Homo sapiens: one gene and its partners. The protein of the gene in region 2 interacts with the protein of the main gene of each other region in a pairwise test. Each region holds a gene or a part of one and is shown on either strand. Other genes may lie near its edges.

Region 1 (6,867 bases), on a different chromosome or scaffold from region 2:
CCCACAGTCATTGGATGAGGGAGAGAACCTTAGGGAAGAGTCCAGGGCCCAACACAAAGAGGTTGGGAATGCTGTTGAGCAAAGAAGGCTGAGACAGTCTTAGCTCCTGTGTCAACTCACTGTGTGGCCCATGAAGCAGGTACCCTCACATCACTGACCCTGCAAAACAAGAAGAAGAGCACCATCTATAGCTTACACCCCATCATGAGATTGATTGAGGAAATAAATTCAGTTTGAGGAAGGAAAGTGCTTTGTAACATATAAAATACCATGTGCATGGTGACTTCAAACAGTACAGAATTTGTAAAGTTCATAGTCTGCAATCTTCAGTGAATACTTCACTCATTCATCAAATATTTATTGAGCACCTATTGTGTACAAGATGCTATACTTCAAGAAAACAAGGAAATTGCCGATAAGGGGCTCCTGGCTGTCTCCTAGAGATGAGACATATACATAAACAGCAATGACAGATAGCTGAGGCCTGGAAAAGGAAAGATAAAGAGCTCTCAAGCAGTTGCTGCTGCTCCCAGCCTCCATTTAAGGTGTTTACTCAGAGATCTTCCAGCCCAAGGTCAACAGAGAGAACTGCCCAGAGCTCAGTGGGAAAGAGCAAGGATGGCTCAGACTCTGCGGGCTGGCAAGATAAGCAAATCAGCTGGTCAGAATATTATGTGCCCATGACATTCCAACATGGCAAGGTTAACTTCTTAGAACATGCAGAATAGCATTTAAACTCCTTACCCATCTCTCTACTGCCTGAATTCACTTTTGATTGGGGTTCTTGGACAATGGCCCTGAAGATGCTCAGACACACCCACATGAATACATCACTCACAGCATAAGCATGAACAATTAAAATCGCTAATGTTTATTAGCTACTTAATATGTGCTAGGCACTGCACTAAGCAACTTGCATGCATTATTTCTTCTGAAACAATCTTATGAGGTAGGCACTATTATTGTCCTCACCTCACAGATGGGATGAGAAAACCAAGACACAGAGAGGTTGTGGGGCTTCCCCAAGGATGCACAGCTAAGTAGGTGGGTGGTAGGGTTTGGCTCTGTGTCCCCACCCAAATATCGTTTGGAATTTTAATCCTCATATTCCCCATGTGTCAAAGTCGGACCCAGTAGGAGGTGACTGGATCATGGGGGCAGCTTCCCTATGCTGTTCTCATGATAGTGAGTTTTCACAAGGTCTGATAGTTTTATAAGTGTTTGGCAAGTTCCTCCTTCTCACACACTCTCTCTCTCCTGCTGCTATGTGACAAGGTCCAAGTTTGCTTCCCCTTCTTCTGCCATGACTGTAAGTTTCCTCAGGTCTCCCCAGCATTGTGGAAATGTGAGTCAATTAAACCTCTTTCCTTTATAAATTACCCAGTCTTTGGCAGTTTTTTTTTGTTGTTGTTTTTTGAGACAGTCTCACTCTGTCGCCCAGGCTGGAGTGCAGTAGCGCAATCTCGGCTCACTGCAAGCTCCGCCTCCCAGGTCCACACAATTCTCCTGCCTCAGCCTCCCGAGTAGCTGGGACTACAGGCGCCCGCCACCATGCCCAGCTAATTTTTTGTATTTTTAGTAGAGATGGGGTTTCACCGTGGTCTTGATCTCCTGACCTCGTGATCCGCCCGCCTCAGCCTCCCAAAGTGCTGGGATTACAGGTGTGAGCCACTGCGCCTGGCCAGCAGTTTTTATAACAGTATGAAAACAGACTAATACAGTAAATTGGTACCAAGATAGTGGGACAGTGCTATAAAGATACTTGAAAATGTGGAAGCAAGTAGGGAACTGGGTAACAGGCAGAGGTTGGAACAGTTTGGAGAGCTCGGAGGAAGATAGATAGAAAGATGTGGGAAAGTTTGGAACTTCCTAAAGACTTGCTGAATGATTTTGACCAAAATGCTGATAGTGATATGAACAGTGAAGTCCAGGCAGAGGTGGTCTCAAATGGAGATGAGGAACTTGTTGGGAACTGGAGTAAAGGTCACTCTTGCTATGCTTTAGCAAAGAGACTGGTGGCATTTTGCCACCTCCCTAGAGATCTGTGGAACTTTGAACTTGAGAGAGACGATTTAGGATATCTGGCAGAAGAAATTTCTAAGCAGCAAAGCATTCAAGAGGTGACCTCGGTGCTCTTAAAAGGATTCAATTTTATGCATTTACAGAGAGATTGTTTGAAATTGGAACTTATGTTTAAAAGAGAAGTAGAGCATAAAAGTTGGGAAAATTTGCAGCCTGACGATGTGATGGAAAGAAAAACTCATTTTCTGGGGAGAAATTCAAGCTGGCTGCAGAAATTTGTCTAACCAGAAGCCAAATGTTAATCGCCAAGACAATGGGGAAGATTACTCCAGGGCATGTCAGAGAACTTTGCAGCAACCCTACCATCCTGGGCCCAGAGGCCTAGGAGGAAAAACAATGGGCTGGTCCAGGGCCCCACTACTGCCCTATGCAGCCTCGGGACTTGGTACCCTGCATCCCAGCCATGGCTAAAAGGGGCCAGTGTACAGTTCAGGCCATTGCTTCAGAGGGTGCAAGCCTCAACCCATGGCGGCTTCCATGTGGTGTTGAGCCTGCAGGTGCACAGAAGTCAAGAATTGAGGTTTGGGAACCTCCACTTAGATTTCAGAGGATGTATGAAACGCCAGGATGTCCAGGCAAAAGTTTGCTGCAGGGGTAGAGACCTCATAGAGAACCTCTGCTAGGGCAGTGCAGAAGGGAAATGTGAAGTTGGAGCCCCCACACAGAGTCCCCACTGGAGGACTGCCTAGTGGAGCTGTGAGAAGAGGACCACCGTACTCCAGACCCCAGAATGGTAAATCCACTGTCAGCTTGCACTCTGCACCTGGAAGAGCCACAGACACTCAACACCAGCCTGCGAAAGCAGCAGGAGGAGAGCTATACCCTGCAAAGCCACAGAAGCAGAGCTGCCTGAGTCTGTGGGAGCCCACCTCTTGCATCAGCATGACCTGGATATGAGACATGGAGTCAAAGGAGATTATTTTTGAGATTTAAGATTTAATGACTGCACCACTGGATTTTGGACTTGCGTGGGGCCTGTAGCCCTTTGTTTTGGCCAATTTCTCCCATTTGAAATGGGAGCATTTATCCAATGCCTCCTGCACCCCCACTGTATCTTGGAAGTAACTAACTTGCTTTTTTTTTTTTTTTTTTTTTTGAGACACAGTTTGCTCTGTCACCCAGGCTGGAGTACATTGGCACTATCTTGGCTCACTGCAACCTCCACCTCCCAGGTTCAAGAGATTCTTCTGTCTCAGCCTCCCAGTAGCTAGGACTACAAGTGTGTGCCACCACACCCTGCTAATTTTTGTATTTTTAGTAGAGACAGGGTTTCACCACATTGGCCAGGCTGGTCTCGAACTTCTGACGTCAAGTGATCCACCCGACTCGGCCTCTCAAAGTGCTGGGATTACAGGCGTGGGCCGCCGCACCCGGCCATTTGCTTTTGATTTTACTGGCTCATAGGTGGAAGGGACTTGCCTTGCCTCAGATGAAACTTTGGACTTTGACTTTCAAGTTAATACTGGAATAAGTTAAGACTTTGGGGGACTGTTGCTAAGGCACAATTTTGTTTTGAAATGTATAAAGAACATAATATCTGGGAGGGGCCAGGGGCAGAATGATATGGTTTGGCTCTGTGTCCACACCTGAATATCATCTCAAATTGTAATCCCAGTAATCCCCATATGTTGAGGGCAGGACCCAGGGCAAGGTGACTGGATCATGGGAGCGGTTTCCCCCATGCTGTTCTCGTGATAGTGAGTGAATTCTCACAAGATCTGATGGTTTTATAAGTGTTTGGCAAGTTCCTGCTCCACACCATCTCTCTCTTCTGCCGCCATTTGAGAAGGTCCAAGTTTGCTTCCCCTTCGCCTTCCACCATGACTGTAAGTTTCCTGAGGCCTCCCCAGCAATGTGGAAGTGTGAGTCAATTAAATTTCTTTTTTTTTTTTTTCTAATAAATCACCCACTCTCAGGTAGTTCTTTATAGCAGTATGAGAATGGACTATTGCAGTGGGGGAGCCAGGATTTGAATCCAGGTATTCTGTCTCCACTGTGCCACCACTGTCTAATAACACTAAAATTAACTACCTAGAGCCACCTCGGGGCAGCTTGTGTATATAAGTATGTGTGCATGTGTGTATGTGTAGGGGTGTATGTGTGTGTGTGTGTGTGTGAGAGAGAGAGAGAGAGAGAGAGGGAGAGAGAGAGACTACTACATTGTGAAATAGTCCACCACACAAGCCAGAGCAGAGGTCACCATGCTCCTAAGAGGCCAGGAAGGCACCATGGCCATGTTAGGGGTGGGTGTGTGAGCAGGATGTGTGTGAGTAAAGGAGATCAATATTCGTGCATGTGGAACTGAATTGGAGGTAGCTGTGGGACCTCAGGAGGCCACCTGCCCAGAACAGTGGCACACACTGCAGAGAAGCTGAAAATTGTCTTGGGCACAAGTGGAGCACCCCTGGGTAGAACCGAGGGAGATTGAGAACAGTTGCTATCTTCAGAGCTTTTTAACTTCTCCCCCTAAGTAGCCTCAACTGATGGGAGAATTGACACATTACCCCTACGTAATAGGTGGGCACAGCCTGAAGCAGCCACCTGCAGACTCTACATTTCTTCCCTTTATATTTTATTTTAATAATATAAAGAGTTGCATTTGACTATTTTATAAACCATGTTTGCTTAAATATACAACTATTATTCTATATTAGTTCATATCAAGCTCAATCAGCATTCCAGAAAACTGTGCTTCTCAGTGCCCTGGGCATTGACTACTCTGGCTCAGAGTTTCATGCCCAGTTTCAGGAGCGAAGCACTCAGACATGGAGCACCTCAGAAGGTTTTTGAGCAGTGGCACGACCAAGTCATGTTTTAAGATAATTTACCCATCACCAGTGGCAAGGTGGAGAAAAACTGGGGAGACTGAAGTGAGGGAAATCAGCTAGAAGGTGACCTGCGTTGGGGAGGGCCTGGCTTAAAGGGAGATAATGGGCTGATCCAGACTGAGGGCTCTGAAGGAGAACTCGATGGCTGAATAATTGCAACTGATGGAATGCAAGAGGCAATAAATAAATTGCCATTTATTCATGGGATGAGAGGGCTCAATATGTGGAACATTGAAGGGTCACCCCACTTTAGAAGTGTCACATAAGGACCGGGTGCAGTGGCTCACACCTGTAATCCTAGCACTTTGAAAGACCAAGGTGGGCGGATTGCCTGAGCTCAGGAGTCTGAGACCAGTCTGGGCAACATGATGAAACCCCGTCTCTACTAAAATACAAAAAATTGGCTGGGCATGGTGGTGTGCGCCGGTAGTCCCAGCTACTAAGGAGGCTGAGGCAGGAGAATTGCTTGAACCCGGGAGGTGGAGGTTGCAGGGAGCCGAGATTGCGCCACTGCACTCTAGCCTGGGCAACAGTGGAGACTCCATCTAAAACAAAGAAAAAAGTGTCACATAAGAAGGGTGTGACGATCTCCTATGAGATTCTTCCAAACACAAGCTAAGGAGGAGCATCAAAAGAGGTCAAGTGGTCTGCTCTCTCCCCCACCTCATCTCACAGCCACTGCAGGCTCCTCAGAGCTTTTCTGCTGGAGGCCAGAATTCCCCTGCCAGGCTCTGGTTAGATTCTCAGCTGCAGAACCCCAGCCCTGGCCCTGCAGCAGAAACCAGAAAGATAAAGCCCCTGGCCCACTGGCCACCAGCCATCTCTAACCCCAGCCAGTCCTCAGAGGACCCAGAGGAGGTGGTGCTGCCTCTGACTCCTGCCCCACCCAGCCTGACCCGCTGGCCCCAGTGAGTCAGTCTCCTCTCAGCCCAGATCAGACTTACTAACTTGGAGCTGCCAAGAAAACTCTGAGCCACCCCTAATAAAAGCCGGCACTCAGCCAGGCTCTTATACAACCCAGCCCTGAGTAAGGCACCTCTCAGCCCAGCTACTGGACTGTTTACCTGCCTTGTCTTCTTAGTGCCCAGGTGTCTCCTGGATTCCTCCCCTCCCTGATCTCCCTGATGTGTGATCCACCAGTCCAGGGGCCTCATCTGTCCCCATTCTGGCAGCCTGACCAAACATCCACCTAGCCCCACACACCTGATTTTTCACCTTCAGAGTCTACCAACTCAGGGATGAGTGAAGCCAGTGCTCCCAGGGACCCAGCCTGACTCACTCAGCAAGGTCCTTTCAGAATGATGCTGTCACTGAGATCCTGGTGGCAAGATGGCAGAGAGTCTGGGGTTGTGTTTGGTGAGCCAGAGTGAAGGACAATCAAGCAGACTGCCCTAGAAAAATGAAGGCTTAGGATCAACCTCTGAAGTGCTCTTAGGTGGGAAAAGGAGTCCCTGTATCCTGTGCAGGTATAATGGACAGAACTGGAAACAGCAAAGAGAAAAAGTCCCAGGGACTTGATGTCAGCTCCACAGATACAAGGGTTTCTAGTAAGCAGGGCTGTTCTCAACAAGACCAACCTGCCTCATGGGAAAGGGACCCCAGCCAGGAGAAGCTAGGTATCCAGAGGTGTTAAAGAATGGATTCCTTCATCATTTCAGAGAGGACATCCCTCTTGGTTCTAAGGTTGTAGAAATTTATGGAAACTCTCCTTGCATCAATTGCAAGGTCTTAGGCAAAATATATCAATCCAACTAATATTCTGGAGAACCTGCTAATCACTTTTACTTCTCCAGAGCTGCTGTGGTCTCAATAACTGAGTTGGTTAGAAGATGAAGTAAGGCCAGGCACAATGGCTCACGTCTGTAATCCCAGCACTTTGGGAGGCCCAGGCCAGTGGATTACCTGAGGTTAGGAGTTCAGGACCAGCCTGGCCAACATGGTGAAACCCCGTATCTAC
Region 2 (3,958 bases):
TTAATCTTTCTTAAATGTATACATAGTTCATATTTCTCTCAACGTTTAATATTAGAAGTGTTTGGGGTCTTTATTGAGAAGTTTGGTGATGTTTTTGTGACCAGAAATATGCTATAGGAACTTAACTCTTGTTTACATCAATCAGCCTAGGGTAAAAATGGTTTTGTTATATGTTGTTTTGCGTAAAGTCATGGTTTCCAGGAACTTATGGAAGACACTGAGGATTACTCCAATACTTGTAGTAAATTTGGGAGAAAAAGGCAAGGACTAAAGTTACTACTCCTAACACAAATGAGACGGTCATGGTGTGCCCCATCAAAAAAGGAGAGAAAGAGAGACAGACACATAGAAACACGTGCACATACACACACACACACACACACACACACACACACACAGAGAGAGAGAGAGAGAGAGAGAGAGAGGGAGAGAGACTATAGAAACATGATGTTATAAATAACAATAGTGCTGAGGAAGATGAATTAGTGTAAAATTGTATTTTTTGTTCTGAGGATAGGTTACATAGATGATTCTAATCCATTTATTATTTTTACATTCCAGGCTACCTAAAAGAAGACAGTTATCTCATATTTGGCTGCCAGCTTTTTATCTTTCTCTCGACCACTTAAAACTTCAGACTTCCTGTCCTGCTGGTATCATGGAGAAAGTCCAATACCTCACTCGCTCAGCTATAAGAAGAGCCTCAACCATTGAAATGCCTCAACAAGCACGTCAAAAGCTACAGAATCTATTTATCAATTTCTGTCTCATCTTAATATGTCTCTTGCTGATCTGTATCATCGTGATGCTTCTCTGAAGTTCTGCTACAACCTCTAGATCTGCAGCTTGCCACATCAGCTTAAAATCTGTCATCCCATGCAGACAGGAAAACAATATTGTATAACAGACCACTTCCTGAGTAGAAGAGTTTCTTTGTGAAAAGGTCAAGATTAAGACTAAAACTTATTGTTACCATATGTATTCATCTGTTGGATCTTGTAAACATGAAAAGGGCTTTATTTTCAAAAATTAACTTCAAAATAAGTGTATAAAATGCAACTGTTGATTTCCTCAACATGGCTCACAAATTTCTATCCCAAATCTTTTCTGAAGATGAAGAGTTTAGTTTTAAAACTGCACTGCCAACAAGTTCACTTCATATATAAAGCATTATTTTTACTCTTTTGAGGTGAATATAATTTATATTACAATGTAAAAGCTTCTTTAATACTAAGTATTTTTCAGGTCTTCACCAAGTATCAAAGTAATAACACAAATGAAGTGTCATTATTCAAAATAGTCCACTGACTCCTCACATCTGTTATCTTATTATAAAGAACTATTTGTAGTAACTATCAGAATCTACATTCTAAAACAGAAATTGTATTTTTTCTATGCCACATTAACATCTTTTAAAGTTGATGAGAATCAAGTATGGAAAAGTAAGGCCATACTCTTACATAATAAAATTCCTTTTAAGTAATTTTTTCAAAGAATCACAGAATTCTAGTACATGTAGGTAAATCATAAATCTGTTCTAAGACATATGATCAACAGATGAGAACTGGTGGTTAATATGTGACAGTGAGATTAGTCATATCACTAATATACTAACAACAGAATCTAATCTTCATTTAAGGCACTGTAGTGAATTATCTGAGCTAGAGTTACCTAGCTTACCATACTATATCTTTGGAATCATGAAACCTTAAGACTTCAGAATGATTTTGCAGGTTGTCTTCCATTCCAGCCTAACATCCAATGCAGGCAAGGAAAATAAAAGATTTCCAGTGACAGAAAAATATATTATCTCAAGTATTTTTTAAAAATATATGAATTCTCTCTCCAAATATTAACTAATTATTAGATTATATTTTGAAATGAACTTGTTGGCCCATCTATTACATCTACAGCTGACCCTTGAACATGGGGGTTAGGGGAGCTGACAATTCGTGGGTCCGCAAAATCTTAACTACCTAATAGCCTACTATTGACCATAAACCTTACTGATAACATAAACAGTAAATTAACACATATTTTGCGTGTTATATGTATTATACACTATATTCCTACAATAAAGTAAGCTAGAGAAAATGTTATTTAGAAAATCATAAGAAAGAGAAAATATATTTACTATTCATTAAATGGAAGTGGGTCAACATAAAAGTCTTCATTCTCATTGTCTTCACATTGAGTAGGCAGAGGAGGAGAAAGATGGGGAGGAAGAGAAGGCGTTGGTCTTGCAGTCTTGTCTTAGGGGTGTGGGGAGTGGGGGAAAGAATATTCATGTATAAGTGGACCCTTGCAATTCAAGCCCTTGTTGTTCAAGGGTCAACTGTAATAGGATATAGCTATTTTTCTTCCTCTATCAACCAAATGGTAAGCATCTATTTTGCAGTCCACTCTACTGAGCTAAATTATAGATCCAGCTATGCTATTTATAATTATTTTCTTGATGAATAAATTTTCAATTTCTCCTCTGACCATTTCAGAACATCTTCCAATAACTCATAAAACAACTGAAGTAAAATTGAGTGCTGGAAAATATATTCACCAAACTTTGGTAATTTAAGTTGACTAAAGTTTAAAATTAAGTCTAAAATAGTTTACACCTATACTGCATAATCCAACAATTTTAATTTCAGTTGAAGACATGTTACTAATATAACTATTATTAAAAGAGTAGAGGATGTGTAATTAACCATATCTTCTAAAACATGGTTACTAAAAGAATATGTAACATCAATATTGACCTTGGTTTCTTACACAAGTGTTGCTAACTCAATAGTGAAGGAGACACTATTAAATTTTCTGAACCCATGAGAGATACTAGAGATGGGGAGTGGAAAGTGTTTGGTTCAGGGATATCTGAAGAACAGAAGGGCAGAGATTTCTTAAGTGACGCCTCATCTACAAGCTGGAAATTCCTAAAAACAAGTAGAAAGCTTATAAACAACAGGTGATACACTCACCTCACTGGTTTTAGTAAATTACCAATACAGAAAGTATCCCTAGTCTTAAAAACAAGTGGAAAATTTGAACTGATTAGTCATATTCCTTTGATTACACTGTTTGTTACAATATTTTTCTCAGTAAACAGAAATAACTAATTTTTTTGTTCTTCATTCTTTGATAGAAATTAAAATCTTATTCTGTGAGGATTACAGAATACTATAACTCAAATTATAAAGTAGAATAAACTCTTTAAATAATTATTCTTCATCATAAAGTGTAAAGAATAAGATATAAGAAAACAATTTATTTTTAAAATTTAATATACTAAATGCTCAAATATGTTCTACTATAGAATAAGTTCTTATCTTAATTTACAGGGCACTAAAAACAATTTTAAAATGCTTAATGTTGCCTTTTATATTTTAATTGGTTAAGAATATATATTTGTTTAATGCAAATCAGAATCACTATATTAAAATGAATGTTCTTGAAAACTCAGTGGGGCTGCTCTATAATACACTTACAATTGATACTAACGATAAAACGCTCTAATTATAGTTTTAATTTTATAGGGGTTTTTTTGGTGACTTTCCCCAAATAAAACAAAATCAAGACGCCCAAGTCCAGACACACAAGAGGGCAGACGTATATAAGATAACAAATTGCTACTACATAGCGATTATTTATCTTTTGATTATTTTTGAGACTTCTGGCAAAGTAGGACTATAATAAATTTTCAGAAAAGATCTGCTCTTCTGCTAAGTAACAGCACACTTCAAAATGTCCAGAAATTTTATGCTAATATTACATAGAAAACTTGACAGATGAAAAAAGTGAAACACATTACTAATTTTATTCATTAAAACAGGTATATAAAAGTCCTCTTTAACTACCTAATGAATGTGTCATATCCTAATATAGGGAGTGTCATAGTGTTCACATCTTTGAATATATAAATTATCTCAAACAGTTAAAAAATTAAAGCCAGAACAGGGTACAAAAA
Region 3 (7,037 bases), on a different chromosome or scaffold from region 2:
GAAGATGAACTGGTAGCTACTAGGGGCTCAGTGACAACTATCTGGAGAGACATTCATTCATCTCGATCCCACATGAAGAGAGCATTTCTCCTGATTATATAAGAAGTGGGTCAGAAAAGCCTGTCCAGTGAAGTATTGCTGCCTTCAAAGTGTAGAAAACCTCACTAAATCTCCTTAGTGGAAGGAAGTTCACTGTACAACAACTTATTTCATATTTATGATAGTATTTAGACATATACAAGGCTTTTTCACATCAAGAAACCTTATTCACATAAGGCATCTCTATCCTGCCCTTCATTTTACCAAGTCATCTGGAGCAGCAATCGCCAACCTTGTTGGCATGAGGGACCAGTTTTGTGAAAGACAACGTTTTCATGGACTGGGGTCAAGGAATGGTTTGGGGATAATTTAAGTGCATTACTTTTATTGTGCCCTTTATTTCCATTATTATTACATTGTGTAATAATATATAATAAAATAATTATACAACTCACCATAATGTAGAATCAGTGGGAACCCTGAGCTAGTTTTTCTGAAAGTAGATGGTACCATCTGTGAGTGATGGGAGACAGTGACAGTTCATCAGGTATTAGATTCTCACAAGGAGCCCACAACCTAGATTCCTCACATGAGAAGTTCCCAATAGGGTTTGCCCTCCTATGAGAATCTAATGCCACTGCTGATCTGACAGGAGGTGGAGCTCATGAGGTAATGTGAGTGATGGGGAGTGGCTGTAAATACAGATGAAGCTTCACTTACTCATTCGCTGCTTACCTCCTGCTGTGCAGCCTGCTTCCTGACTCATCCATGGACCAGTACTGATCCATGGCCTAGGGGTTGGGGACCCCTAATCTAGAGCACTTGGAGAACTATCTGTTCTCCAAAGCTGATCAAATGCTATCATTAATGTATCTAATATTTTAAGAAAGGGTAACACTGTTGAGAGCCAAATAGATACATGGCCCAGAGCAAGCTTAAGTTACTAATAACTCCTTTTTCAGCTCACCCCCTGCTGAAGGCATGAGTTTGAATCTCAGTTTTGCCATTTGCTGTGTAATGTATGCAATTATATTTAGCATCATATTTCTCACTTGAAAAATGAAAATAATACATTTAATACTTAACAGGAGTGTCAGAAAGTATATTAGCACTTGGTAATTTATACAATACAATATAAAAGTAAGAAATTTTTATTTTATTTATTTTTATTTTATTTTCAGCAATAAGAGCTAACTGCCATCAAGAGCCATCAGTATGTCTTCAAGCTGCATGCCCAGAAAGCTGGATTGGTTTTCAAAGAAAGTGTTTCTATTTTTCTGATGACACCAAGAACTGGACATCAAGTCAGAGGTTTTGTGACTCACAAGATGCTGATCTTGCTCAGGTTGAAAGCTTCCAGGAACTGGTAAGAAAATAGTTCTGGCCAGAATCAAAGATTCAGCCCTACAAGGATATGTTTTCCTGTGAAATTATCTAAGAGGTAGGTTTAGACATCTGCTTTTACATTGATTTTTTTTTTTTTTTTTTTTTTTTGCATAACGAAAGAGTAACCTAGCATGTATTATATTTTACAGTGAACCATCTAAAATTACCTTAATATTCGTGGCAGGAACAGGCCCAGAGGGCAAGCAAGCCAGAGCCTTCTTTGACTTGTGAGCCAGAATTGTGCAAATAAGGATTAGAAAAGTATTGGTAGAAACCCAGTTTTAAGTTTGTATGAAGTTAGCAACATTGTTTCAAAATAAATCAAACAAGGCCAAGAGCAGTGGCACATGCCTGTAATCCCAGCACTTTGGGAGGCCAAGGCGGGTGTATCACTTGAGGTCAGGAGTTTGAGATCAGCCTGGCCAACATGGTGAAACCCCATCTCAACTAAAAAATACAAAAATTAGCTGGGCATGGTGGCATACGCCTGTAGTTCCAGCTACTCAGGAGGCTGAGGCAGCAGAATTGCTTGAACCTGGGAGGTGGAGGCCTACAGTTAGCTGAAATCATGCTACTGTACTCCAGCCTAACAGAGTGAGACTCTATCTCAAAAAAATAATAAAATAAAAACAATAAGTCAAGCAAGAATGATGTCATAGAGGTTGGTAGACTAAAAAGCTACAGAAATCTGTTCCTCCACTGAGAAAACTATTGAACTGTCAAAAACTGTCTGAAGTAACTATTTTGGAATTCTCGAGTCTAGTTAAACACTGGAAGCATCAAGGGAAGAGTTTGATAAAGAGGATGATAAATTTTGGTTAATGTTGGTGAATTTCAGCCTTTCCACTCAATAATAACTATTTTCCATACCCCATTATTGCAGGGATCCATGGGAACTGCTGCCCATGTTCTTGTAATGAATTCCTGCAGCCAGGGTGAACAATAAGCACCTTTTTGTCCAAATGTCAGGGTTATTGCTGATTTCTGCCTTTGAATGCTGAGGGGCAGACACAGAAGTGGGCTATCATTGCATCAGTCCTCATCAGCTGAAGTGGCTTCCCAAGGATTTAAATAAATAGTATGTGTTTTTCCTCCCTTTAGGAAGCAGTCATTTAAGACAATTTTTATTAGATAACTGGCTGACAGCAGAGATAACAGAACAGAGATTTCAATGACCATGCACAACAGAGAATAAAAATAGTTGGGAAAAAATCATGACCAAATGACTCTGAGCCACAACAACCAAGATTTGACAATCCCTGAAGAGCAAAATAATTAAGTTACCAGAGTTACCACAACATAGTATTCATAATGTCCAGTTCTCAAAAAAAAATTACAAAACATGCAAAGAAAAGTATGGTTCATTCACAGGAAGAAAAAGTAATCTGACAGAAACTATCCCTGAAGAGGCTCAGATATTAAAAATATGAGTCAAAAATGTTAAATCAGCTGTCTTAAGTATAACCAATGAGTTAAAGGAAACTAGACAAAAAGCTAAAGGAAACCGAAAACATAATAAATGAACAAAATTAGAATATCAATATAAAGGTAGAAATTGTAAAAAAGAACCAAGCAAAAATTCCAGAGCTGAAAAGTACAATGACTGAAATTTAAAAATAATTTTAAAAACTCAATGAAGAAGTTCAACAGCAGATTTGAGAAGTAAGAGATCAGAAAACTTGAAAATAAGATAATTGAAACAATCCAGACTAAGAAAAACAAAGAAAAAGAATGAAGATAAATAAATTCTAAGGAACCTGTAGGACATCAGCAAACATACTAACATATGTACTGTAGAAATCCAGGAAAGAGAAGAGAAAGAGAAGCAGAGAAATACACTTAAAGAAATAATGAACAAAACTTTCCAAAATCTGAGGAAATACATAAATATATACATCCAAGAGGCTCAATGAACTCCAAAAGGGTAAACTTAAAGAGATCTACATTGAGACAAAATATAGTCAAGTTGACAAAATCCACAGAGAGAATTTTGAAAGCAGCCAGAATGAAGCAACTCATCATTTACATAAGACCCTGAATAAAATTAATAGCTGATTTTCTCTGAGAAACCATGGAGATCAGAAGGTAGTGGAATGGCATATTTAAATGTCTGAAAGAAAAAATAAAACTGCCAACCATGAATTCTATGTATAGCAAAGTTGTCCTTCAAGAATGAAGGAAAAAGTAACACATTTTCAGATAACCAATAATTAAGGGATTTTATTACCAGTAGACATGTGCTACAGAAAATGCTAAAGGAAACCTTTTAGGCTGAACTGAAAGTACACTAGACAGCAATTCAGAGCCTCCAAAATAAAGAATATTCATAAAAGTAACAATAGAGGTAAATATAAAACCCAGAATTACTACATGTGTCATATAGTTTATAACTTCTCCTATTTATAGCTTTCTATATTTATATTTATCTATAACTTCATAGGCAAATGAATAAAAATTATAAATATGATAGTGGTCATATAATGTATAAAGATGCAATCTGTGACAGTCTTATGAAGCAGGGATGAAGACATATAGGATCAAAATGTTTGCATAGTTATTGAAGCTATGTTGATATTATGAAATTATATTGTTACAAGTTTAAGATGCTAATTATAATTCTCAAGGTAACCACTAATAAAATTACCAAAATTATGCAGAAAAGGAAAAAAGAAAAACAATACACTATAAAAAACCAATTAAATACAAAAAAAGTCAGTAACAGACAACTTGAGAAACAAAGACATATAAGATATAGAGAAAACAAATGATTAAATGGCAAAAGTAAATCTTGTTTTAGTAATCACATTAAATAGAAAAGGATGAAGCCATCCTATTAAAGGGCTGAGACTGACAAGTTGGCTAAAAACTAAAATAAATTAAAAAGAAAAACAAGACTCATCTACATGCTGTCTATAAGAGACTTGCCTTAGATATAAGGACACAAAGAAGTTGAAAGTAAAAGGACTGAAAAAGATATTCCATACAAACAGTAGTAACCAAGATAGTGCCGAGTGGCTATATTTTTGTCAAACAAAATAAACTAAAGTAAAATTTACAAGAGAAAAAGAAGGGCATTATGCATTGACAAAAATTTTGACATAGCCAAATAATTATGTTATAAAATATATGTACTTAATAATACAGCCTCAAAATATATGAAGCAATAATTGCTATAATTTAAGGGAGAAAAGAACAGTTCTATGAAAAGTTAGAGAATGAAATATTCCACTTTCAACATGAGATTAAACAACTAGACATAAGATCAATAAGGAAATAGAAAATTTGAACAACACTATAAACCAATTATCCCTAACAGGCATATACAGAAGAATCTACCCAACAAGAGCAGAATATTAATTCTTCTCAAATGCACATGGAACATTCTTAAACCATATGTTAGGCCACAAAACAAGTGTTAGTAAGTGTGAAAATTTGAAGTCATAAAAAGTATCTTTTGCAATTACAATGGAATGAAGCTAGAAATCAATAACTAGAAAAACCAGAAAAGTCACGCATATGTAGAAATTTAAAAACCCGCTCTTCAACAGCCATTGGTCAAAGAAGAAATCACAAGGGACATTAGAAAATACCTTGAGACAAATGAAGTAAAAATACAAATAGCACGTTTATGGTATACACTGAACATAGTTCTAAGAGGGAAATTTATAGCTGTGAGCAGTTAACTAAAAAAGAAGAAAGATCTCAAATCCATAGCCTAACTGTACACTGTAAGGAACTAAAAAAAGTAAAACAAAAATAGAAGTCATCTTTATGATTTGAAAGAGTAAAAGATTTACCTAATAAGTCCCTAAATTTACTAATAATAAAGAAAATTGTTTATATATTTAATTGCGTTAAAATTCAGAACTTGTAATCATAAAAAGGACAGTACACATTGACAAGGAAACACAGCAAAGGAAACCAGCCTATGCTGCTGCTGTTGTGAGGATAATTTGGTACACTTACATTAGTTTGGTGTCTTTTCTTTCTCTTTCTTTCTTTCTTTCTTTCTCTTTCTTTCGTTCGTTCGTTCGTTCGTTTCTTTTTGAGACAGAATCTCACTCTATTGCCCAGGCTGGAGTGCAGTGGCGTGATCTTGGCTCACTACAACTTTTGTCTCCCAGGTTCAAATGATTCTCATGCCTCAGCCTCCCAAATAGCTGGGATTACAGGTGCATGCCATCACGCCCAGCTAATTTTTGTATTTTTTTTAATAGAGAGGGGGCTTCATCATGTTGGCCAAGCCTAGTCTCAAACTCTTGGCCTCAGGTGATCCGCCTGCCTCGGCCTCCCAAAGTACTGGGATTACAGGTGCTTGGCCTGGTGGTGTCATTTCTTAAAGTTGACAAAAAGCATATCCTGGGGCCTAAAAATTCTATTCTAGGACAGGTGCCAAGAATGTCATAGTAGCATACATTCCAAACTTGATAAAACCCTGGTGTCAACCGATAGTATAATAGATAAATTGGAGAAGAGTCATACAAAGGAGTACAATACAGAAACAAAAGTAACCAAATTATCAACAATTTCTCTCAGTTTTAAATTATCTTCTTTTGATATGTATGATAATATAGCACACCTATTCTGTATGTATTACTAAACAATACAAAATCAAAAGGAAGAAAATTATGAGTAGTTAAGAATATAGCATAGCAGCAACATTTCTGGGAGAGGATGGGTTATGTTAGATTAATGAATATCATCTCTGTGTTTTCTGAAAGAATTTCCTGTTGAGATATAAAGGCCCATCTGATCACTGGATTGGGCTGAGCAGAGAACAAGGCCAACCATGGAAATGGATAAATGGTACTGAATGGACAAGACAGTAAGTTCTAAAAATCTGGCAGTAATATTTGTATTTGAATTTACTTTGCATTAAATCTGAAGTGTTCTCTAGTTACATGCTTTAAAAAATTCTCATTTTAAGGTTAGTCATGAAAGAAGATGGTGCCAACTTGTATGTTGCAAAGGTTTCACAAGTTCCTCGAATGAATCCAAGACCTGTCATGGTGAGGTAGACTGACTGTGAACTTGGCTCCAGGCTTATCTATGTCATTTTCAAACACTTTCATTTTAAGCAAACCATACAATATCTTTAAGTCTGTTCCTTACCTCCACAACAAAATTAAATTGCACTTGTCCTCCTGATTTCACAGGGTTGATGTGAGGAACAGAGGTTTTGATGTATCAGGGAAAGATTATGAGTGACAGCAATTATACCTATTATTTAAAATAAGACAATAGTTTTAAAATTTTAAAATGGGTAAAGTTTGGCACTAGAAAATTTAATCTCAATTGTATATTTATAGGATCTTCAGATTACTAAAAAGATTTGAGATAATGCTGGAAAAATTGGATTCACACAATTTCACTCAATGTTTGTCTGAGAGATGAGACAGTTTTGAAAAGCTACTTTATTGTAATACATTCATCAATATTGGAAATATAACTTTATTTAATAAAAAGAGCCCCAGACTGGACATTGGCAGGTTTGAAATGAGTTTTTTCTCATTAGCTTTTGACCTTGGATGGGATGGTAAGTTTTAGAAATCAGAGAACATGTACATTTATACATTGTTGTATCTACACTGCCTTGCACATTGTGACTGCTT
Region 4 (7,772 bases), on a different chromosome or scaffold from region 2:
CAACTCATCTTCAACAAAGAAAGCAAAAACACAAATAGGGAAGGGGCACCCTATTCAACAAATGGTGCTGGGATAACTGTCTAGCCACATACAGAAGAATGAAACTGGATCCTCATCTCTTACCTTATACAGACATCAACTCAAGATGGATCAAACACTTAAATGTAAGACCTGAAACCATAAAAACTTTAGAAAATAACGCTGGAAAAACTCTTCTAGACATTGGCTTAGGCAAAGATTTTAAGACCAAAAACCCCAAAGCAAATCTAACAAAAACAAAAATAAATAGATATTACCTAATGAAAACACTTCGGCACAGCAAAATAATCAGCAGTGTAAACAGACACCTCACTGAATGGGAGAAAATATTCAACTATGCGTCCTACAAAGGACTAATATGCAGAATCTACAAGGAACTCAAATCAGTAAGAAAAAAAGAAATAATCCCATCAAAAAGTGGGCAAAGAACATGAATAGACAGTTCTCAAAAGAAGATACACAAATGACTAACACATGAAAAAGAATGCTCAACATCACTAATTATCAGGGAAATGCAGATTAAAACCACAATGAAATACCACCTTACTTCTGCAAGACTGGCCATAATTTACAAAGTCAAAAAATAGTAGATGTTTGCATAGATGTGATGAAAAGGGCACTTTTACACTGATGGTGGGAATATAAACTAGTACATCCACTGTGGAAAACTTTATGGAGATTCCTTAAAGAACTAAAAGTAAAACTACCATTTGATCCAGCAGTCCCACTATTGAGTATATATCCAGAAGAAAAGAAGTCATTATATGAAAAAGCCACTTGCATCTGCATGTTTATAGGAGCAAAATACACAATTGCAAAAATATGGAACCAGCCTAAATGCCCCTCGACTGACAAGTGGATAAAGAAAATGTGATATATTTACACCATGGAATACTACTCAGCCATAAAAAGGACTGAAGTAATGGCATTTGCAGCAATTTGTACGGGAGTTGGAGACCACTATTCCAAGTGAAGTAACTCAGGAATGGGAAACCAAATATCGTGTATGTTCTCACTTATAAGGGTTTGCTGAACTATGAGGATGCAAAGGCATAAGAATGATATAATGGGCCGGGTGCAGTGGCTCACAACTGTAATCCCAGCACTTTGGGAGGCCAAGGCAGGCGGATCATGAAGTCAGGAGATTGAGACCATCCTGGCTAACATGGTGAAACCCTGTCTCTACTAAAAATACAAAAAATTAGTCGTCGTGGCACGCGCCTGTAGTCCCAGCTACTCAGAGGTCTGAGGCAGGAGAATCGCTTGAACTTGGGAGGCAGAGGTTGCAGTGAGCTGAGATTGCGCCACTGCACTCTAGCCAGGGCGACAGAGCAAGACTGTCTCAAAAAAAAAAAAAAAATACATACATACATACATATATATATATATATATATATATATATATATATATAATGGACTTTGGGGACTCAAGGGAAAGTGGGAGGAGGGTGAGGGATAAAAGACTATACATTGGGTACAGTGTACACTGCTCAGGTGATGAGTACACAAAAATCTCAGAAATCACCACTAAATAACTTATCCATGTAACAAAAAAATGACCTGTTCCCCAAAAACTATTGCAATTTTTAAAAATGTAAACATTAGCCATGCGTGTTGATGCACACCTGTAGTCCCAGCTACTTAGGAAGCTGTGGCAAGAGTATCTCTTGAGCGTTGGAGGTCGAGGCTACAGTGAGCTATGATTGCACCACTGAACTTCATCCTGGGCAACAAAGTGAGCCCGTCTCAAACACACACACACACACACAACAAAAAATTGGTTTTGTCCTGGTACCTGGTTATTATAATTTGAAGCAGAAATTATTTTGTTTAGATTTTTTAATATTAAGAAGCATCTCCGTCGGGCGAGGTGGCTCACACCTCTAATCCCAGCACTTTAGGAGGCTGAGGTGGGCAGATCACCTGAGGTCGGGAGTTCAAGAACAGTCTGACAAACATGGAGAAACCCCGACTCTACTAAAAACACAAAATTAGCTGGGCATGGCGGCGCATGCCTGTGATCCCAGCTACTCAGGAGAGTGAGACACGAGAGTCACTTGAACCCAGGAGGCCAAGGTTGTGGTGAGCCGAGATCGCGCCATTGCACTCCAGCCTGGGCAACAAGAGCAAAACTGTCTCAAAAATAAAAAGTAAAAAAAAAAAAAGCATCTCTACTCACCATTAACTATACAATTAAGAGGTCACACCTTTGTTTCATCATCGTAGACAAGGTAAATATTACTAAAGAAAATGCCTGTCCATAAAAGGGATCTGGTGACAGAGGACAGCCTCTCCCAGAGTAACAGGCATCCAGGACTCCACTCTATCAACGATTTCTAAAACAATGGGTGTGAGCAAGGGCTAGGATGAGATGTGTGATTAAGTTCCTGAGCTGACGGCAAATTTAAAAGATGCCCTCTCAGCTCCTGGCTGCGGCCCATCCTCCCTGTAAGGTGCACGACTCCATGACGCTTTTCACTGACGGCACTACCTCTTGGCCATTACCACCTCCCACCAGATCCCATTCGCTCTGTTTTACCAGGGAAAGGTCTGCTCCAGTTAATGCCTTATCCTTCACAGTGATGTTCTTTGACTTTATAAAAACGGAGCCATTTGGTCAACAGGCTGCCCGTCGGATCCCGTGTCCTTCTGCACTGCTAATATCTAGCTGTGGCCCTGCTTTAAAACCCAAATGCAAACATCTCTTCCATGAAGCCCTTCCTGATTGCCAGTGCCCTCAACAGTGGAATAAGCTGCCAGGCATCTTAGAGATCTAGACCCGTGGTTCTCAACCCCCACTTCCCCAGGCCTCCTGAGAAGCTTTTAATAGGTGCATCAGCCCTGGATTCTTACCGGCAGGACTGAGAGGGAGCCTTAACGCTTGTGTTCTTCTAATAGTGTGCACAGGGTTGACGGGAAACACACACACACACAGTGCAGAACCATTCCACGAAGCTGTGTATCCGGAATTGGTTCCCTCTGAAGAGTTCCTGGTCCCGGTCCTGCCGCGGACCTTCACGGCATTATAGTTCTTAAACATGGTGTGTCCGGAGTTTGTTCCTTCAAATGTTCAGGTGTGTCCGAAGTTTTTTCTTTCTAGAGAGTTCGTGGTCTATGCACGACTTGATGAGTGAGGCCGCGGACCTTCGCAGGGAGTGTTACAGCTCTTAAAGGTGGCGCATCCGCGTTGTTCCTTCCTCCCAGCGGGTTCGTAGTTTCGCCGACCTCAGGAGTGAAGCCACAGACCTTCGCAGGGAGTGTTACACCTCTTAAAAGTGGTGCGTCTGGAGTTGTTTGCTCCTCCCTGTGGGTTCGTGGTGTCGCTGACTTCAGGAGTGAAGCCACAGACCTTCACAGTGAGTGTTATGGCTCTTAAAGGTGGCGGCTCCAGAGTTGTTTCTTGTGGTGGCTTCCTGGTCTCGCTGGTTTACAGGAGTGAACCTGCAGACCTTCACTGTGAGTGTTAAAGCTCATAAAGGTAGTGTGGACCTAAAAGGTGAGCAACAGCAAAATTTATTGCAAAGAGCGAAACAACAAAACCCCAACACCATCGAAGGGGACCCAAACGCAGCTGCCGCTGGCTCGGATGGCCAGCTTTTATTCCCTCATTGGCCCCGCCCACATCCTCCTGATTGGTCCTGCCCACATCCTCCTGATTGGTCCATTTTACAGAGCGCTGATTGGTCCATTTTACAGAGTGCTGATTGGTCCATTTTACAGAGTGCTGATTGGTCCGTTTTTACAGAGTGCTGATTGATGTGTTTACAAACCTTTAGCTAGACATAGAGCATTGATTGGTGCATTTACAATCCTTTGGCTAGAGAGAAAAGTTCTCCAAGTCCCCACCAATTAGCTGGACACAGAGCACTGATTGGTGCATTTTTACAGAGTGCTGATTGGTGTGTTTACAAACCTTTAGCTAGACACAGAGTGCAGATTGATGCTTTTACAATCCTTTAGCTAGACAGAAAAGTTCTCCAAGTCCCCATCCGACCCAGAAGCCCAGCGGGTTTCACCTCTCAGTAGCTTACAGAAGAGGACCCTGCTGCCACAGCACAATACCACAAAGAAAGTCATGCTCTCCTCAGCAGGTAGCCCCCTTCTCCGGGACAGGAACTTTGTTTCCTTCTTAGCTCTATCGCCAGCACCTAGAACAGTGCCCACCTGTCAGATCTGTTATCAGATGGGAACATGGCAGATTTGTTGAATGAATGAAGGAATGAATGAACTATGTGACACTCAAACTTAGCCACCAAACTTAAACTAAAAAAACTGGGTTGTGGTCCCTGATGGACCGTTGGCACCTTCTTCCTTTGCTGGACGGTGATCCGTGGCTGTTTCTGCGGTGTGTTCGCAGTGGTTGCCTGGCTTGGTAACAAACACTCTTCGGAGCCACAGCCTGTTCTCAGGGTCCTCGCCGCCTCCCAGGCCCTGCGATCTCTTTGCATCTCAGGAGGTCCAGGTTGGTTGCAGTCCTCTTGGGTGACTCAGGAACCAGCCTCTCCTGAAGCACACAGCTTAGGGAGTTCCTGAGGCCAGAGACATCTCCACGGGAAAGTCAAAGGCCTGGAGGAAGTGCGGACCTGACGACAGATGCCCCGCACGCTGGCCGGGACCGGGAAGGGCGGTCAAGGGTGGAAAGGGGCTGGCGGCTGCCAGGCCTGGCGGAGTGGAGCGGGGCGGGGCGCAGCGGGGCGGGGCGGGCCTGGAGCTGCACCTGCTTCTGGGCGGACGCACTTGGCGCGCGGCGCGGGCTGCAGACGGCTGCGAGGCGCTGGGCACAGGTCAGACGTCCGTACCCGCAGGGGGCTCGAACCTGGAGGAGGGCTCGAAGGGAGAGGGGGCCCCGCCAAGGAGCGGGGCTGTGATGGAGAGGAGGTTCCGACTCGCAGGGGACCTGCGGGGGAGGGGACGCGGACAGGGAGGGGCTCTGGGACAGGGGTGAAGGCTGCGCTAGGGGAGGACGGGAGGGGATGGAGGGCCCTGGTGTCGCGGAAGCCCAGCTGGGGCCCCCTCCGGGCTGCGGAACCGGTGCGCACACTACTCCCACCGCCCCCGAGTGCCTCTGTCCGGCTGGCCGCGGCCCTGGAACGAATATTGCTCAGTCCCCCGCGAGTCAGGTCTGCCGCGTTGCCCGGTGAGGGGAAGGTGTGAAGCCCCGGGCCTCCGTCTGCCCGGTGAGTCCGGGGACGCGCGCCCCCGGGGATGCCATCTGGCTCCTGGGCTGTGACCAGTCACAGCTCACATAGCTCTGGGCACTGGTACCGACTGCCTTTCCTTGTTAGCTGCGATACACAAATACACGAGCCAGATCCTTTCCTGAGGCCAGGAAGCCTGGAATCTAATAACACCGGGCGGTGGATAAAGTCCCCCGAGCCAGTGCTTAGCTTCCGTTAATGGAGCCATGGATGGAAGCGGATGTCAGGCGCAGTGGGGGAGAAATTTGCGGGGGTGGCCCTGTCTAGGGCCAGAGAAACAACCTCTGAAGCTTTGATCCAGCCCTAGAGGGAAGAAAGATGTGAGTTTCAGCCAGGGAAACGTAGCACTTTAAGAAATAGAAACCCTTTCAAAATTTGAGGGCAGGTAGCTCTCCTAAAAGTTGCAGAAATGGCCACTTCTTTTTTTTTTTTTTTTTTTTTTTGAGACGGAGTCTCGCTCTGTCGCCCAGGCTGGAGTGCAGTGGCGCAATCTCGGATCACTGCAAGCTCCACCTCCCGGGTTCACACCATTCTCCTGCCTCAGCCTCCCGAGTAGCTAGGACTACTGGCGCCCGCCACCACGCCCGGCTAATTTTTTGTATTTTTTTTTTTTTTGGTAGAGACGGGGTTTCACCGTGTTAGCCAGGATGGTCTCGATCTCCTGACCTCATGATCCACCCGCCTCAGCCTCCCAAAGTGCTGGGATTACAGGCGTGAACCACCGCGCCCAGCTAGAAATGGCCACTTCTTTCACGTTCTCTTCGACCGCTTTCTGCGGTGTCTGCCCTTTTCCTCCTCCTGCACCTTTTTGTCTCCTAGGGTCGCATAGCCTTCCAAACAGGCCTGCCTACAGCATTTTACCTGCAATTTTACACTCATTTTAATAGAAAGGATGGCTTATTGTTCATGAGAGACGTGTACTGTTTTTAACCAGATGTGTAATATCTTCAGTATAACCTGGATGTTGTGCAGTGGGAAGTTATGGAAAGAATCAGGACACGTGGTTAGGTAGGGGCCCAGGGGCGTCAGACTTAGCTCTTTGTGACAGTGAGCTTCTTGGTTTAATAAGGATATTGGCTCCCTCTGTTCCTGGGGTTTCTGGGAAAAGATATGGAACTGATATGAAGGTTTTATTGAATATGGCCCACTGATTTTACAAGTGGAGGTGACTGAGATAAGCAGAAGGTGAGGCATGACCTCTGGCTGTGCATTATTTGTTCTGATATTACAGGAGCCAAGCATTCCATTTCCTTCTTTTTAAAGAGCTTTGATTTCCTCTCACATCTTCATGAAGATGGAAACAGTGCCCCCACTTACTTATCCTCAGGCCACACCTGTTCCCATTTATTCCATGAGTTCCTCCCACACCCTTCTGGTTGATGTTGGTTGTGATGGTCGAGGTAATTGAATCTCACATTTGGCACCAGTTATTTCTGTTTCTCATCTCCCCCCTACCTGCAGTTAAACATCAGCTGCTATACTTAACTGTTCAAAGTACAGATGTTACCTGTGTTGGGTGTAATCAAAAGATTATCTCTTTTCCTCAAATGAAAAATGGGTGAGGACAGTTTCACCACACATAGAGTCACTCCCCTAGCCAAAGTCCTTGCTATTGCAAAACTTTTTACTGTAAGAGAATTAAAGTCACTAGTGTGTCATCAACTAATGGTACTTATAGACACATTCCATATTTGTTTCTATAGAAAGATCATAAGACAAACACTAGATTATTCCCAGTATGAGACCATACTGAATATGAACAATTAGAGGCCACAGGTGAGTGCTGTCCTCCTCACACTTTCTTTGAACTCTTAAGCTTCTACTCTTTTAACCAGCTACCCCTCTCCCCAAAACCTTCACTGAGGCTAGAAACAAACACAAATAGACTATTTGAATTTTAGCAAATTTTATCTCTCTTTTCTATTCTCTTGTGTAAAACTTAAATGGCCACAAGCTACACTACTGGAGGAAAAAGGAAAGCTAAAAGGTCTATCAGCCTTCTGTATGTGATGCAGAGTTCAACTGAATATAGCAAGGTACACACCCGCATTCTCCTTGCCAGGACTTAGATATCATAAGCCATTATCTTGCTGGTTGTTGAAATCATAATGGGGCTTTATAGAGCACAAGGCGATGTTTGTAAACAGCACTGTTCAGGTCAGATTAGAATCCGTATTTCAAAAATGAGGAGATGGAAACAGAGATATTGTGTATGTGGTCCAGGGTTAGCCAGTAATTAAATGGCAGAGCCAGAACTCAAACCAACATTCCTTCCAGAATACCACAGCTGCCTCTGGAGTGGTTTTTGTTGTTCTTGTTGAATTTTGTGATGGAAGATTGTGATTTGTTTTTCCCGAACACTTAATATGTTTTCTGACTTGAATTATCAGAATCTAAATTTAGAAACTCTCTCGTTTGGTATATTTCATGCCCATCTTTGTTCCATATAATTACAAAAATATCTTAGAGCTGAGTATAACCTTAAAGATTGTCAAGTCCAATCTTGTGGTTTTTCAAGGAAGAAAACCGGATTTA

Evidence for each region.
Region 1: the proteins of PLN (region 2) and SLC14A2 interact in binary tests that used the Homo sapiens proteins (3 or more experiments, as listed by UniProt).
Region 3: the proteins of PLN (region 2) and CLEC2D interact in binary tests that used the Homo sapiens proteins (3 or more experiments, as listed by UniProt).
Region 4: the proteins of PLN (region 2) and TMEM45B interact in binary tests that used the Homo sapiens proteins (3 or more experiments, as listed by UniProt).

The regions. Positions count from the first base shown.
Region 1 is NC_000018.10:45,611,639-45,618,505, forward strand, and holds the start of SLC14A2 (urea transporter 2), read left to right. Parts: upstream 1-3,837; 5' UTR 3,838-3,944; intron 3,945-6,867.
Region 2 is NC_000006.12:118,558,264-118,562,221, forward strand, and holds the end of PLN (phospholamban), read left to right. Parts: intron 1-561; 5' UTR 562-658; coding exon 659-817; 3' UTR 818-3,453; downstream 3,454-3,958. UniProt on the Homo sapiens protein: Reversibly inhibits the activity of ATP2A2/SERCA2 in cardiac sarcoplasmic reticulum by decreasing the apparent affinity of the ATPase for Ca(2+).
Region 3 is NC_000012.12:9,686,682-9,693,718, forward strand, and holds part of CLEC2D (C-type lectin domain family 2 member D), read left to right. Parts: intron 1-1,220; coding exon 1,221-1,405; exon of another isoform or gene 1,406-1,480; intron 1,481-6,146; coding exon 6,147-6,250; intron 6,251-6,352; coding exon of another isoform or gene 6,353-6,434; intron 6,435-7,037. UniProt on the Homo sapiens protein: Receptor for KLRB1 that protects target cells against natural killer cell-mediated lysis. Inhibits osteoclast formation. Inhibits bone resorption. Modulates the release of interferon-gamma. Binds high molecular weight sulfated glycosaminoglycans.
Region 4 is NC_000011.10:129,811,076-129,818,847, forward strand, and holds the start of TMEM45B (transmembrane protein 45B), read left to right. Parts: upstream 1-4,772; 5' UTR 4,773-4,823; exon of another isoform or gene 4,824-5,216; intron 5,217-7,772.